Linked DNA regions of Homo sapiens. The protein of the gene in region 2 binds, or shares a complex with, the protein of the main gene of each other region. Each region holds a gene or a part of one and is shown on either strand. Other genes may lie near its edges. A codon is read from its position in the direction of its gene.

Region 1 (5,124 bases), on a different chromosome or scaffold from region 2:
CGCCCAGCCTCATTACTTCCATGTTAGAGATGGGGAAACCGAGGCTGAGAGGTGGAGTCACGTGTCCCGTTCCCACTCCGCCTGTCCTCAACCCTCCCCCACTGTCTCTCCCTGCAGGTCAGATCCGTGCCCACCTGCTGCCCTCCAAGGCCTGCCGCCTCCGGACCCCTGGGTCCCTCTCCACCAACCCAGAGCCCCTGCCCCCACCCCTGCCCAAGAAGATCCTAACCCGGACCCAGTCACTGCCCACCCGCAGGACCCTCCATCCCAGCTCCATCCAAGTACAGCCGCCTCGGAGACCCTTTCTGGGGTCCCACAGTGTGGACAAGAGCCAGGCTGCAGTGGGACCAGCCTGTCTCCCTGCAGAGCTGACCTTTGGCCCGGCTGACGCCCCACTGGGCCTCTCCCTCCGCGATCTGCACAGCCCGGAGGCTGTGCACACTGCACTGGCTGCGCGGCAGCTGCAGGGCCTCCGTACCATCTATGCCCGGCTCCGTGCCCGGCTCATGGGGGGCCACCCCGGGCCCTGCCACCCCGGCCACAGCTTCCGCCTCCTAGACAGCTCACCCTGCGCAGAGAGCGGGGACGCCCTGTATTACCGCGTGGTGCGCGCGCACGAGGACGCCTGGCACATCCTGGTCGCCAAGGTGAGCCCCACAGCCCCACCCTCTCTGAGGTGTCCCCAGTGCCCCATCTTAGACATAACCCAGGGCTTGTTTCATTTGGCCTTTCTGTGAGTCAGTTCTCACACTGCTGTAAAGAAATACTGGAGCCGGGCGCGGTGGCTCACGCCTGTCATCCCAGCACTTTGGGAGGCCAAGGCGGGCGGATCAGCTGAGGTCAGGAGTTCAAGACCAGCCTGGCCAACATGGTGAAACCCAGCCTCTACTAAAAATACAAAAATTAGGTGTGGTGGCGGGCGCCTGTAAACCCAGCTACTTGGGAGACTGAGGCAGGAGAATTGCTTGAACCCGGGAGGCAGAGGTTGCAGTAAGCCAAGATTGGGCCATTGCACTCCAGCCTGGGCAACAGAGTGAGACTCCGTCTCAAAAAAAAAAAAAAGAAAAAGGCCGGGCACAGTGGCTCACACCTGTAATCCCAGCACTTTGGGAGGCCGAGGCGGGCAGATCACGAGGTCAGGAGATACAGACCATCCTGGCTAACACGGTGAAACCCTGTTTCTACTAAAAAGACAAAAAATTAGCCGGGCGTGGTGGTGGGCACCTGTAGTCCCAGCTATTTGGGAGGCTGAAGCAGGAGAATGGCATGAACCCAGGGGGCAGAGCTTGCGGTGAGCCGAGAACGCACCACTGCGCTCCAGCCTGGGCGACAGAGCGAGACTCCGTCTAAAAAAAAAAAAAAAGGCTGGGCAGCACAGTGGCTGACGCCTGTAATCTCAGCACTTTGGAAGGCCAAGGCGGGCAGATCATGAGGTCAGGAGTTCGAGACCAGCCTGGCCAACATAGTGAAACCCCCATCTCTACTAAAAATACAAAAATTAGCCGGGCGCGGTGGTGCGCACCTGAAGTCCCAGCTACTTGGAGGCTAAGGCAGGAGAATCACTTGAACCTGGGAGGCGGAGGTTGCAGTGAGCTGAGATTCGAAAATTGGGCTATTGCACTCCAGCCTGGGCGACAGAGTGAGACTCTGTCTCAAAAAAGAAAAACAAAAGAGAAGAAAAAAGAAAAGAAAAGAAAAAGGAATACTGGAGACTGGGTAATTTATAGAGAAAAGGGCCTTAATTGGCTCATGGTTCTGGTGGCTTCTGCTTCTGGGGAGGCCTCAGGAAGCTTCCAATCATAGTGGAAGGCGAGGCGGGAGCAGGCATCTCACACGGTGGGAGCAGGAGGAAGGGAGGGAGGAGGTGCTACTCACCTTTACACAGCCAGATCTCACGAGAACTCACTCGTTATCCCAACGACAGTGCCAAGGGAGATGGTGCTGAGCCATTCATGATAAACCACCCCCAAGATCCAAGTCGCCTCCCACCAGACCCCACCTCCAACACTGGGGAATGAGATTTGGTGGGGACACAGATCCAGACCATATTAGACTTGTTTATTTTGCAACTAACACGTGAATCAACGCAGTTAACCCAGGAAACCATGTTTCTAAAGTATGGGGCCATGGGTATGGCCTTGGAGCTCTTGTCAAAACCCCTCCCACACCTCTCTGGCCGGGGATCTGCTTTTGTGTTTTTTGTTTTGTTTTTTGTTTTTGAGACAGAGTCTCACTCTGTTGCCCAGGCTGGAGTGCAGTGGCGCGTTCTCGGCTCACTGCAACCTCCACCTCCCGGGCTCAAGCGATTCTCTCACCTCAGCCTCCGAAGTAGCTGGGATGACAGGCGCGCCACCACGCCCAGCTAGTTTTGCATTTTTTAGTAGAGACGAGCGTTCCCTGCGTTGGCCAGGCTGGTCTCGAACTCCTGACCTCAGCGATCCCCCTGCCTCCCAAAGTGCTGGGAAGGCGTGAGCCACCGCGCCCGGCCCAGGAATCTGCTTTCGAACTCATTGCCCAGGAACATCTTCTTCCCTGGCTTAACTTTCCTGAAAGTCCTTACTGGTGACTAACTTCCAAATTAACACTGACCTCCTGCTGCTGGAGGGATGCAGGCAGCCCCTAGCCGTAGTGGGGGCAGTTTGGGGGTGTGCGTGGGAGGCTTCGGGGCAGGTAGCACTGGGGCAGGCGGTGCTTGTGGGGGGCCCAGTGATCCAGGCCCCGACACCCCCTCTGCCTTGCAGGTGCCCAAGCCCGGGGCGGACGTGCCCCACCCGTGGGGCCTGGAGCTGCAGGCCTCCCTGTCTCCACACTTCAATCTGCAGGGGCTGTGTGGCCTGGTGCCTGAAGGCACACTGCCCGGGGCGCCCTGGAGAGGCGCAGTGGCGCTGGCAGCCGAGGTTCCAGAGCGCACGGTGGCGCAGTGGCTGGCGGAGGCCTGCACGCAGCCGCCGGAGGAGTTCGTGTGGGCTGTGGCCCTGCTGCTGCTGCAGCTGAGCGCGGCCCTGAAGTTCCTGGAGGCGTGGGGCGCGGCCCTAGTCGAGTTGCGGCCGGAGAACTTGCTGCTGGTGGCACCTCGGGGCTGTGCGACGACGGGGCCCCCACGCCTGCTCCTCACTGACTTTGGCCGCGTCTGTCTGCAGCCCCCTGGACCCCCGGGATCCCCGGGCCCCCACGCGCCGCAGCTGGGCAGCCTCCTCCGAGCGCTGCTCAGCCTTGCTGCGCCCTCGACCACGCCTTTGGCCGCGGGCCTGGAGCTCCTGGCAGCACAGCTGACCCGCTTGCGGCCCTCGGCGTCCCGGACGCGGGGCGCGCTGCAGGCGCTGCTCTGGGGGCCCGGGCCTGAGCTGCGCGGCCGCGGAGCACCGCTTGGTCCCTGGCTCCGAGCGCTCGGGCCCTGGCTGCGGGTGCGCCGCGGGCTGCTGGTCCTGCGCCTAGCAGAGCGGGCCGCAGGTGGGGAAGCTCCCAGCCTCGAGGACTGGCTGTGTTGCGAATACCTGGCCGAGGCCACCGAGTCCTCGATGGGCCAGGCCCTGGCGCTGCTGTGGGACTGACCCCAACCCAGGGCGAACACACCTGGTCCAGGCCTGCCCAGGAGGCAGGGCTGGGGCTGAGGTCAGCGTCTCCATGATAGCCAAGACACCCTCTTCCTGCAGAGTCCAGGAGCGCAGCAGAGAGAGCAATGCCCCACTCCAGAGCCTCCCCTCCCGTGCTGGGGATGTGGGTCAAGGGCTTCCCAGGAATGCAGCTGCCCCTCCAGGGCTGGGGGCTGGCCAGCGCCTCCTGTGTTGGGCAGCAGCTCTCTGAAGCCAGGGCCCCCACGCCACTTCCAGGTGTGGACAACCCCGCTGATCAATGTCTCTCTGTGTTCTGCCTTCCCCAGCAGCCAGGGCGCTCTTCCGCGTGGGTTCTGTCATTGTCTCCATGAGAGGCCAATGCCGGGACCAGAGGCATTCCTGGCTCTGGAGCACCCCCTTGTGCTGAAGATGGCCAGTGATTTTGGGCATGTGAATGCCCCTGTCCCTGGTGGAGAATTGCTTGGTGGTGTCACGGGAAGGGAAGGCTCCCTGGGACCTTAGACACCCAGCTCATCTCAGCGGGGTCTGGACTCACCTTCCCTAAAACAGTCCCCGCGGTTCCCTGCCACCTCCCCTCAATCCCTCTGCGCCCACCCTGCCTCCCTCCCTGTTCCTCCGTGACACACCAACTTCTTTCGCGCCCCCAAGCATTTGTGTAGGCTGTTCCCTCTGCCATACTGTTCCAGTTCCACTTTCTTTTTCTTTTTTTTTTTTTTTTTTTTTTGAGACGATCTCGGCTTACTGCAAGCTCCGCCTCCCGGGTTCACGCCATTCTCCTGCCTCAGCCTCCCGAGTAGCTGGGACTACAGGCGCCCGCCACCACGCCCGGCTAATTTTTTGTATTTTTAGTAGAGACGGGGTTTCTCCGTGTTAGCCAGGATGGTCTCCATCTCCTGACCTCGTGATCCGTCCGCCTCGGCCTCCCAAAGTGCTGGGATTACAGGCGTGAGCCACCGCGCCCGGCTACAGTTTCACTTTCTCTAAACAAATAAAGGTGCCCACTCTGGGCCATCGCTAGCTCCTTACCCTGCGTTCTCCGCCCACTCTCAGGAGCATTTATTCCTCTGTTACTGTCCACAAGGCTGTGAGTTCCCTGGGGGCAAAGGCCAGGCTTGGCACACAGTAGGTGCTCACTTAATACCACAGGATGATGTAATAAACAGGCACAGAGGAGACTCACTGGAGGGGGATGGAGTCTTCCTTTATGCCTCTGACACACTGCACTGCCCTTGCCTGTGGCTTCCTTCCTGGAGACTCAGAGTTGCCCCTCCATTCCATTCCCCATGGCAGTCCTGGGAGGATCTTTCCAACCCCAGATATGAGGTCCCTCTCCAGCTCAAACACCTCCCATGGCTCCCCAGTGCCTCAGAATACATACAGGGCTCTTCCAAAGTCTCCTCAGAGTCTCCAACCCCATGTCGTTCATCCCTGGAGGTTACTTTCCAGCCTCCACGCCTTTGCCCAAGTTGTTTTTTACACCAGAAAACAGCCCCCTCTACTCTGCTTCATACTCCTATTCATCCTGCATGGCCTCAGCTCTAATGCCCCT
Region 2 (7,456 bases):
CAGCTGGATCAAGATAGCTCTCAGTAGGTCTATTAGTTCCCTAAGCCTGCCATAACAAAGGGCCACAAACTGGGTGGCTTAAAACCACAAAAACATATTCTCTCACCATTCTGGAGGCTAGAAGTCTAAAATCAGTGTGACAGCAGAGTCTTGCTCCCTTTGAGACTCTGGGTAGAATCCTTCCATGCCTCTTCCTGGCTTCTGGTGCTGCCCAGCAATCCTTAGTGTTCCCTGGCTCACAGCTCATCACTCCAGTCTCGGCCTCCATTGTCATGTGTTGTTTCCCATGTGTGTCCTGTCTTCAGATGGCATTTTCCTCCTTCTTTAGGGCACCAGCCACGTTGGATTAGGACCCACTCGAATGACCTCATTTTAATTGATTATACTGCAAAAGCCCTTTTCCAAATAAGGTCACATACACAGATTCCAAGGGTGAAAGCTTCAGCATATCTTTCTGGAGGATACAAGTCAATCCTTAAGAATAGGTTAATGGGCCAGGTGTGGTGGCTCACACCCGTAATCCCAGCACTTTGGGAGGCCGAGACAGGCAGATCACCTAAGGTCAGGAGTTTGAGACCAGCCTGGCCAACATGGCAAAACCCTGTCTCTATTAAAAATAAAAAATTAGCTAGGCATGGTGGCACACACCAATAATCTCAGCTACTTGAGAGGCTGAGGCAAGACTCACTTGAACCTGGGAGGCGGAGGTTGCAGTGAGCTGAGATCATGCCACTGCACTCCAGCCTGAGCAACAGAGTGAGACTCTCTCTGGAAAAAAAAAAAGAATAAGTTCATGCATAAACACAATATGGTAGATTCATACAAGGGGATTTTTTAAGCAATCAAAAGAAATAAGTTATCAAATCATAAAAAGACATGAAGGAAACTTAAATCACATTACTTAATAAAACAATCCAGTCAGAAAAGGCGACATATGTGCTGGGTACAATGGCTCACACTTTATTACCCAGCACTTTAGGAGGCCAAGGCAAGAGGATTGCTTGAGCCTGGGTGTTCAAGACCAGCCTGGGCAACATGGCAAAACCCCATCTCTATAAAAAATACAAAAATTAGCTGGGTGTGGTGGCACACGCCTGTAGTCCCAGCTACTAGGGAGGCTGAGGTGGGAGAATCACTTGAACCCAGGAGGTCGAGGCTGCAGTGAGCTGTGATTGCACTACTGCACTCCAGCCTGGGTGACAGAGTGACACCCTGTCAAAAAAAAAAAAAAAGAAGGAAGGAAAGAAAGAAAGAAAGAAAGAAAGAAAGCGAGCAACATATTGTATGATGTAACTATATGACATTCTAGAAAAGGTAAAACTATAGTGTAAAAGGTCTGCGGTTGCCAAAGGTTGGGGTGAGGGGAGGGAGTGAGGGATGAAGAGTTGAAGCAAAGATTTTTAGGACAGTAAAACTTTTATTTATATACATGACATTATGCATGTGTCAAAACCTATAGAACTATGTACAACATAAAGAATGAACCCCAATGTAAACTACGGACTTTAGTTAATAATGATGTATTAATACTGGCTCATCAATTGCAACAAATGTACCACTCTAATACAAGATGTTAATAATAGGGGAAATTGTGTGGAGGAGGGAGAGGGAATGTGGGAACTCTGTAATATCTGGTCAATTTTTCTGTAAACCTAAAACTGTTCTAAAAAATTAAGTCTATTGGCCAGGCACAGTGGCTCACACCTGTAATCCCAGCACTTTGGGAGGCCATGGCAGGAGAATCACTTGAGGCCAGGAGTTTGAGCCCAGCCTGGGCAACATAATGAGACTCTGTCTCTACAAAAACATTTTTAAAAATTAAGTCTATAATTTGAAAAAAGATTCACTGCAGTATATAAGGCTCTAGTATCACTTCTTTAAGGAAATCTTTCCTGCTCTCCCATCATATTCCCAAGATGGGTTAGGTGCTCTTCTCCCAAGCTCCCATAATACCCTGCACATATATTTATTTCTATGGTTGCACCTACCACATTGTATTTTAACATTTATCTGTATCGCTGTCAGTTCATAGCTGTGGTTTGCTGACGCTTGGCCTAGAATGCAGAGATGGTGAAATAAGCTAATCCATTGAACCCTTTAACAGGCACCTAGGAATGCCTGACAAAGGGCACTTCTGTTCCCTCAATGCACTGTTGATGTCATTTGTGGTATAATCATTATTAGCCCTCTGGTCCATTAGGCTATTTTCTGGATGACGGCATAAGGCACAGTCTTGTGACATTAAAAGTTACTTAGCCTGAGTAGTCTCTAGATTACTGGTCTAGGGTCTGCCAAAGACGATCCTCATGGGGAAGTTTTTGCACTAACCTCTCCAGGATTCAAATCCAATGGTTTTGACCCAAAACCATGCTGTTTACGTTACACAACACGTTCTCAATCTTGTTCAACTTAAAAGGTGGCACAGTACAGGGGTCACTGGCACACATGCCTACATGACAGATAACATAAGTGACAAAAGCAGACTCAGGTCGAGAAGGGTCCCTGGCATTTGGGAAAGTCCATGCCCAGTCTAGAACAGGCAGCCACTCCTTGGCTTCAGCCAATTGTTGCCACACAGAAATGTGGACACAGTGTTACCAGACAAGGCAGAGAGGCAGATTTCTGTTCACACAGAAACTTTTCAGTTTAAAAAAGTGTTGGCAACTAAGTCAAACTGCTTAGAAATACTGGAGATGGCATATTGGGAGGGTAAGGAATCATCCAATTGAATTGGGGTATTTACGATGGGGGAGAAATAGCAGCTAAAGGATAAGGGCAGCTTTTGGAGAACCCTGATTGTCACACTCAAGGAACTTATATATTGTCATCTAGGTCTGAGTGCACACTAAATAATTTAAGCAAGAACAGGACACGATTAGAATGGTATTTTTAAAAGATCACTTGGCAGTTGACGGGCGAGGCTGAGACCAAATGGTGAATTAGAAGTCTGTCATTTAGCTAAGTAAGGGTAAAGGCAAGACGGCAAAGGCCTATTTACTTGGCTTTTTCTCCTACCCGACTGCAAACTCCAAGACAGCAGGGCCCCACCTGCCTTGTTCATTGCTGTGTCTCCAGCACTAAGCAAAAAGCCTGTTCAACATTTGTTGAAAGAATAAATGAACAGGAGAGAGGGAAGGCGAGAGGCATTTTGAAGGACTGAGTTTAAAAATCAACTACCTTGAAGCCGGTCGAGGTGGTTCATGTCTGTAATCCCAGCACTTTGGGAGGCTGAGGCGGGTGGATCACCTGAGGTCAGGAGTTTGAGACCAGCCCGGCCAATATGGCGAAGCCCCGTGTCTACTAAAAATACAAAAACTAGCCGAGAGTGGTGGCATGCACCTGTTATCCCAGCTACTCAGGAGGCTGAGGCAGGAGAATTGCTTGAACCTGGGAGGCAGAGATTGCAGTGAGCCAAGATTGTGACACTGCCTGGGCGACAGAAAGAGACTCTGTCTCAAAAACAGAAAACAAAACAAAACAAAACAAAACAAAATCAACTACCTTCAGAGGAGTAGAATGTTGGTAATTGTGAGAGCAGTCATGGAGGGGAGGGGAGCCATGGAGGCCTGTTTCCTTCCCTGAACTTCCTCAACGAGGGGGCATCTTAAAGAAGAAATCATGTACACAGATTTTTGTGGGTTTTTTTTGGAGACAGGGTCTCACTCTGTCTCCCAGGTTGGAGTGCAGTGGCATGACCATAGCTCACTGCAGCCTACAACTCCCGGCCTCAAGCAATCCTCTCACCTCAGCTTCCCAAAGTGCTGAGATTACAGGCGCGAACCACTGCGCTCGACCCTACACAGGTTTTTTAAAAAGACGTTTGTGCATTGGATTCCTGGCACTTCACGTGGCCTCTTCAGTCTACCAAAGAAGGAAAAGGTAAGTACCCTGAAGGATTGAAAGGATTAAATGAACATTGAGGGATGAGCAATTTCTGTTCTTCCCTGGCTCCAGCATTACCAAAGCACACAGTAAGAGGACTGACATCGGCCTCCGACCCAGTGAGGATTACTTTCGGGGTGGAGGGGGAACTGCTAAACCTCGAATCTCCGGGACTGGCCCTGGCGCGTTTCCAGTCCCAGCAGAAAGGGCAATCCCCATCCAGACCACACTCCTAGTCCTCCTTATTCCCACACAGCCCGTATCTTGACCACCCCCAGCTCCGCCCTCTCTCCTCCCACCTCCTTTTCCCGCTCCCCCGCCCCATTTCCTTCTTCTCCGCCCACCTCCTCCTGGGTCCCTCCCCCGGCCATCCGCCCTGCCCCGGCCCCTGCAACCCTGCCTTTCGCTCTTCTTCCTCCTCCCTTCCGTCTGCGCCCCTCCCGTGGGGCCGTGGCAACCCCGTGCCTCGCTTGCCCAATGAGAACACGGTTTGGGGCGGGGCGCGGCCAGGACCGGAGCGGAAGTGGCGATCGGAGCGGAAGTGGAGCTACCGCCACCGCCGCCGCCGATTCCGGAGCCGGGGTAGTCGCCGCCGCCGCCGCCGCTGCAGCCACTGCAGGCACCGCTGCCGCCGCCTGAGTAGTGGGCTTAGGAAGGAAGAGGTCATCTCGCTCGGAGCTTCGCTCGGAAGGGTCTTTGTTCCCTGCAGCCCTCCCACGGTGAGTGCGGCGCGGGGTCCGACCGGGGCCCCCGGGGGCCCAAACTCGAAGCCCCTCTCTGGCTGCTGCGACGACGGCGGCCCAGTGGGTGGGCCCCGTGGGGTAGCGGCGCGCTGCCTCTTTCGCTCCGCGCGGCCGCCGGCGGCGAGGCCAGACCTCGCAGCGGCCCCTCCCTGTTTCCGGGGCCGGGCCCTTTACCTCTTGGAGAGGCTCGGGCCGCCTGAGGTCCTGCCGGCCGGGCGGGGTGCAACTCCGTACTGTGCCGTAAGGGACAGCGGAGCCGGGGATCCCGGACCCTCCCTCACTATCTGCTTCGGGCCCCACGCGACCCCTCCCTGCGTCTTGGTCGGCAAGAACGTCCCCTTCAGCCCTGTCACCTCTGCTCCGTGCTTTCTGGTTTCCAGAAATTAAAATTTAATCAAACGCGGATGAGTTTTCTAGCCCCAGTCCCCGTGTTTGGCTCCTCCTGGATGAGTAAGGGGTTTAACCTTGGGAGACAGCAGTGGGGGAACCCCCTCCCATTTTGCAGTAAAACCATTTCATCATCCTTCACTGGTTATGGAGCCTGGCAGGACCCAAGATTCCCTAGGAAGGGAATTGGGTTTGAATCAAGAAAATCTGTTTGTTGGAGCCGGTTACTGAGTCAGGCCGGATCCCCAGGAAAAAATATCAGGGGGTGAGAATCGGAGTATTTTCTCACAGTATTTACCGTCATTTAATGCCAGATTCTTTTGTGTCTTTACCCCAAATTCCCCCATATTGTGTGTTAGCACGTTTTTCGGTCTGAAATTTGCCCGGTGGCTTCCTGGTCGGGGGGTGGGGAGCGGAGGGAAGAAGAGGTGGGAAGGTGAGTGCATCTTTGCCGCAAATGGAGAACTCCCATATAATGGGGTTTTCAGAGGTGGCAGCCTTGGTAAGCAATTTGCCAACCTTTCTGTAAAATACATGTTTCTTGTCGTTGCCTTCATTGCATTTCTCTTTGGTAAGGCTAGATAGCATCAGGTCCTGATTTTGCTTGCCCTGTGTGGGAGATGGAATTTGGCAAGATGATGCTATGAACATAAAATCAGCCTCGGGAACCAAAAGAGAAAGGTGAAGCACTTATAAGAATATGAAAATTGTCTGCATTTCTCATTCTGTCAGTTCATGTGAAGCCAGACACAGATGCAGTTTGTAGACCTGGACACTGCAGCTTTTGCATTTTCATTTGGAAATGTGTATAAGTATTTGTTCTTGGTGAATTTCTTCTTGACTGCTTCCAGTGTACCCTATTTCTTACTTAGGGATATCTCATTTGTTTGAGCCCTCATTTTTCTTGGATCCCTGTCCTTGGCAACACACGGTGTGTGAGTGTAAAACCTGTCAATCTTATTGGACCTAAGTTAGAAATTTAAGTGTGGCTTTCAAAATGGAAGGCTAATAATCCTGTAGCAACTGCAGAATTATTTTCCTGGCCTGTCCTTCCAATGAGATAAGAAACCATTCACCTATCTTGCAGATGAAGTCTTTATGAGAAATGAGGTGATTTGGCCTAGACTATACACCTAGTTTTTTTCAAACTGAATATCCTCATTCATCAGTAGCAAATATTTATGGATTGCCAGCCCCTGGAGTATGACGCCTACCCTGTAATCTTTTGTACATTTCACATCTTGCAGTGCTTGTTATATTGAAGCCATTTTAGAATTGGAGCGCTATAGATCAGGGAGGCAGCCTCTATAAAACCAGGCTGAGCAAATTCCCATGATGCTGGTTCTCTAGGCAGAGTCTCCAGAGATTTGGGCCGCTACAAAAAGTGCATTTTGCCCATTCGGCTGTGGATAGAGAAGCAGGAAGAGCACTGGACTTGGAGTCAGGTAAATTTGGTTGAAATCTTGCCTGCAATATTTTCTAGCTTTCTGAATCTTCAGCATGTTAATCTCTGGTTCTTGGTTTTCTTATTTCCAGGGTTATCATTAAGCCTTTTTTATAAACTGTAAATTGTTAAATATAAGCTTTTGGTTTGTTTTTTAATCAGAGTTCACTATTAATGGCTTTTTCTCTCCAGTTAACATCTGATGACACTAAACCCTGCTTTGTACACATGTTGCTTTCAAAAAATGGTATATTATTATAGGACTTTATTTTGCATATAGGCAAATCCAGTCTTTCTGAATCATTTTCTCGTCTATATAGCACAAATGGTAATGCAGCTTTTGATATATTTTTGTTGCGACAAGCTCAATAATGAAAATAAGCATCTGGGATATAGTTGGGGTTCAATAGATGTTATTGACCATCTGCATGAATATACACGTGTATAGATTAGACATAGCATATATGCTATTCATGGACATTTATATAGAATCCATCCATTTGTGATTTATTCACCAACTGATGAGGTGGTATCAGACAATTAGTCTATAATAATAGTTACCACTTACAGTACTTACTGTGTGCTAAGCTTTCTTTTAAGCACTTTAAGCATATTAGCTCAGTCTTCATAACAACCAATGAAAGGTAAGACTGTTAGCCCCATTTTACAGATGGGGAAACTAAGGCACTGAGAAGGATAATTTTCCCGAGGTCTCACACACAGCGCAAGGTAAGTGCCAGAACCAGGAATGAAACCAGGTGATCTGGTTCTGAGGAATGATATTATAGATTTCTGCATGTGGTAGAGACAGCACATGTATATGTTTTATGTGAACACCATTTAGTCCTTAATTTTTCTTTACACCAATCCTAATAAAGTAAACGTTTGAATGGGAATATTAGCTATTTTTGAAGATAGATACAGGACAATTTATTGTGGAGCATATACCCATTCTGGCCTGTAGGGATGATAATTGCTAGCATGCATCAGGAAGCAAGCT

Evidence for each region.
Region 1: the proteins of YWHAB (region 2) and PEAK3 are in contact, whole or in part, in a cryo-EM structure (PDB 8DP5), measured with the Homo sapiens proteins. Residues at the interface, in NP_003395.1 of Homo sapiens: Val48, Lys51, Asn52, Arg58, Lys122, Arg129, Tyr130, Gly171, Leu174, Asn175, Val178, Glu182, Ile219, Leu222, Asn226, Leu229, Trp230; in NP_940934.1 of Homo sapiens: Arg66 (codon at 231), Thr67 (codon at 234), Gln68 (codon at 237), Ser69 (codon at 240), Leu70 (codon at 243), Pro71 (codon at 246), Thr72 (codon at 249), Arg73 (codon at 252).

What each region holds. Positions count from the first base shown.
Region 1 is NC_000019.10:2,274,107-2,279,230, reverse strand, and holds the end of PEAK3 (protein PEAK3), read left to right. Parts: intron 1-117; coding exon 118-647; intron 648-2,741; coding exon 2,742-3,551; 3' UTR 3,552-4,600; downstream 4,601-5,124.
Region 2 is NC_000020.11:44,881,286-44,888,741, forward strand, and holds the start of YWHAB (14-3-3 protein beta/alpha), read left to right. Parts: upstream 1-4,419; 5' UTR 4,420-4,601; intron 4,602-6,362; exon of another isoform or gene 6,363-6,457; intron 6,458-7,456. UniProt on the Homo sapiens protein: Adapter protein implicated in the regulation of a large spectrum of both general and specialized signaling pathways. Binds to a large number of partners, usually by recognition of a phosphoserine or phosphothreonine motif.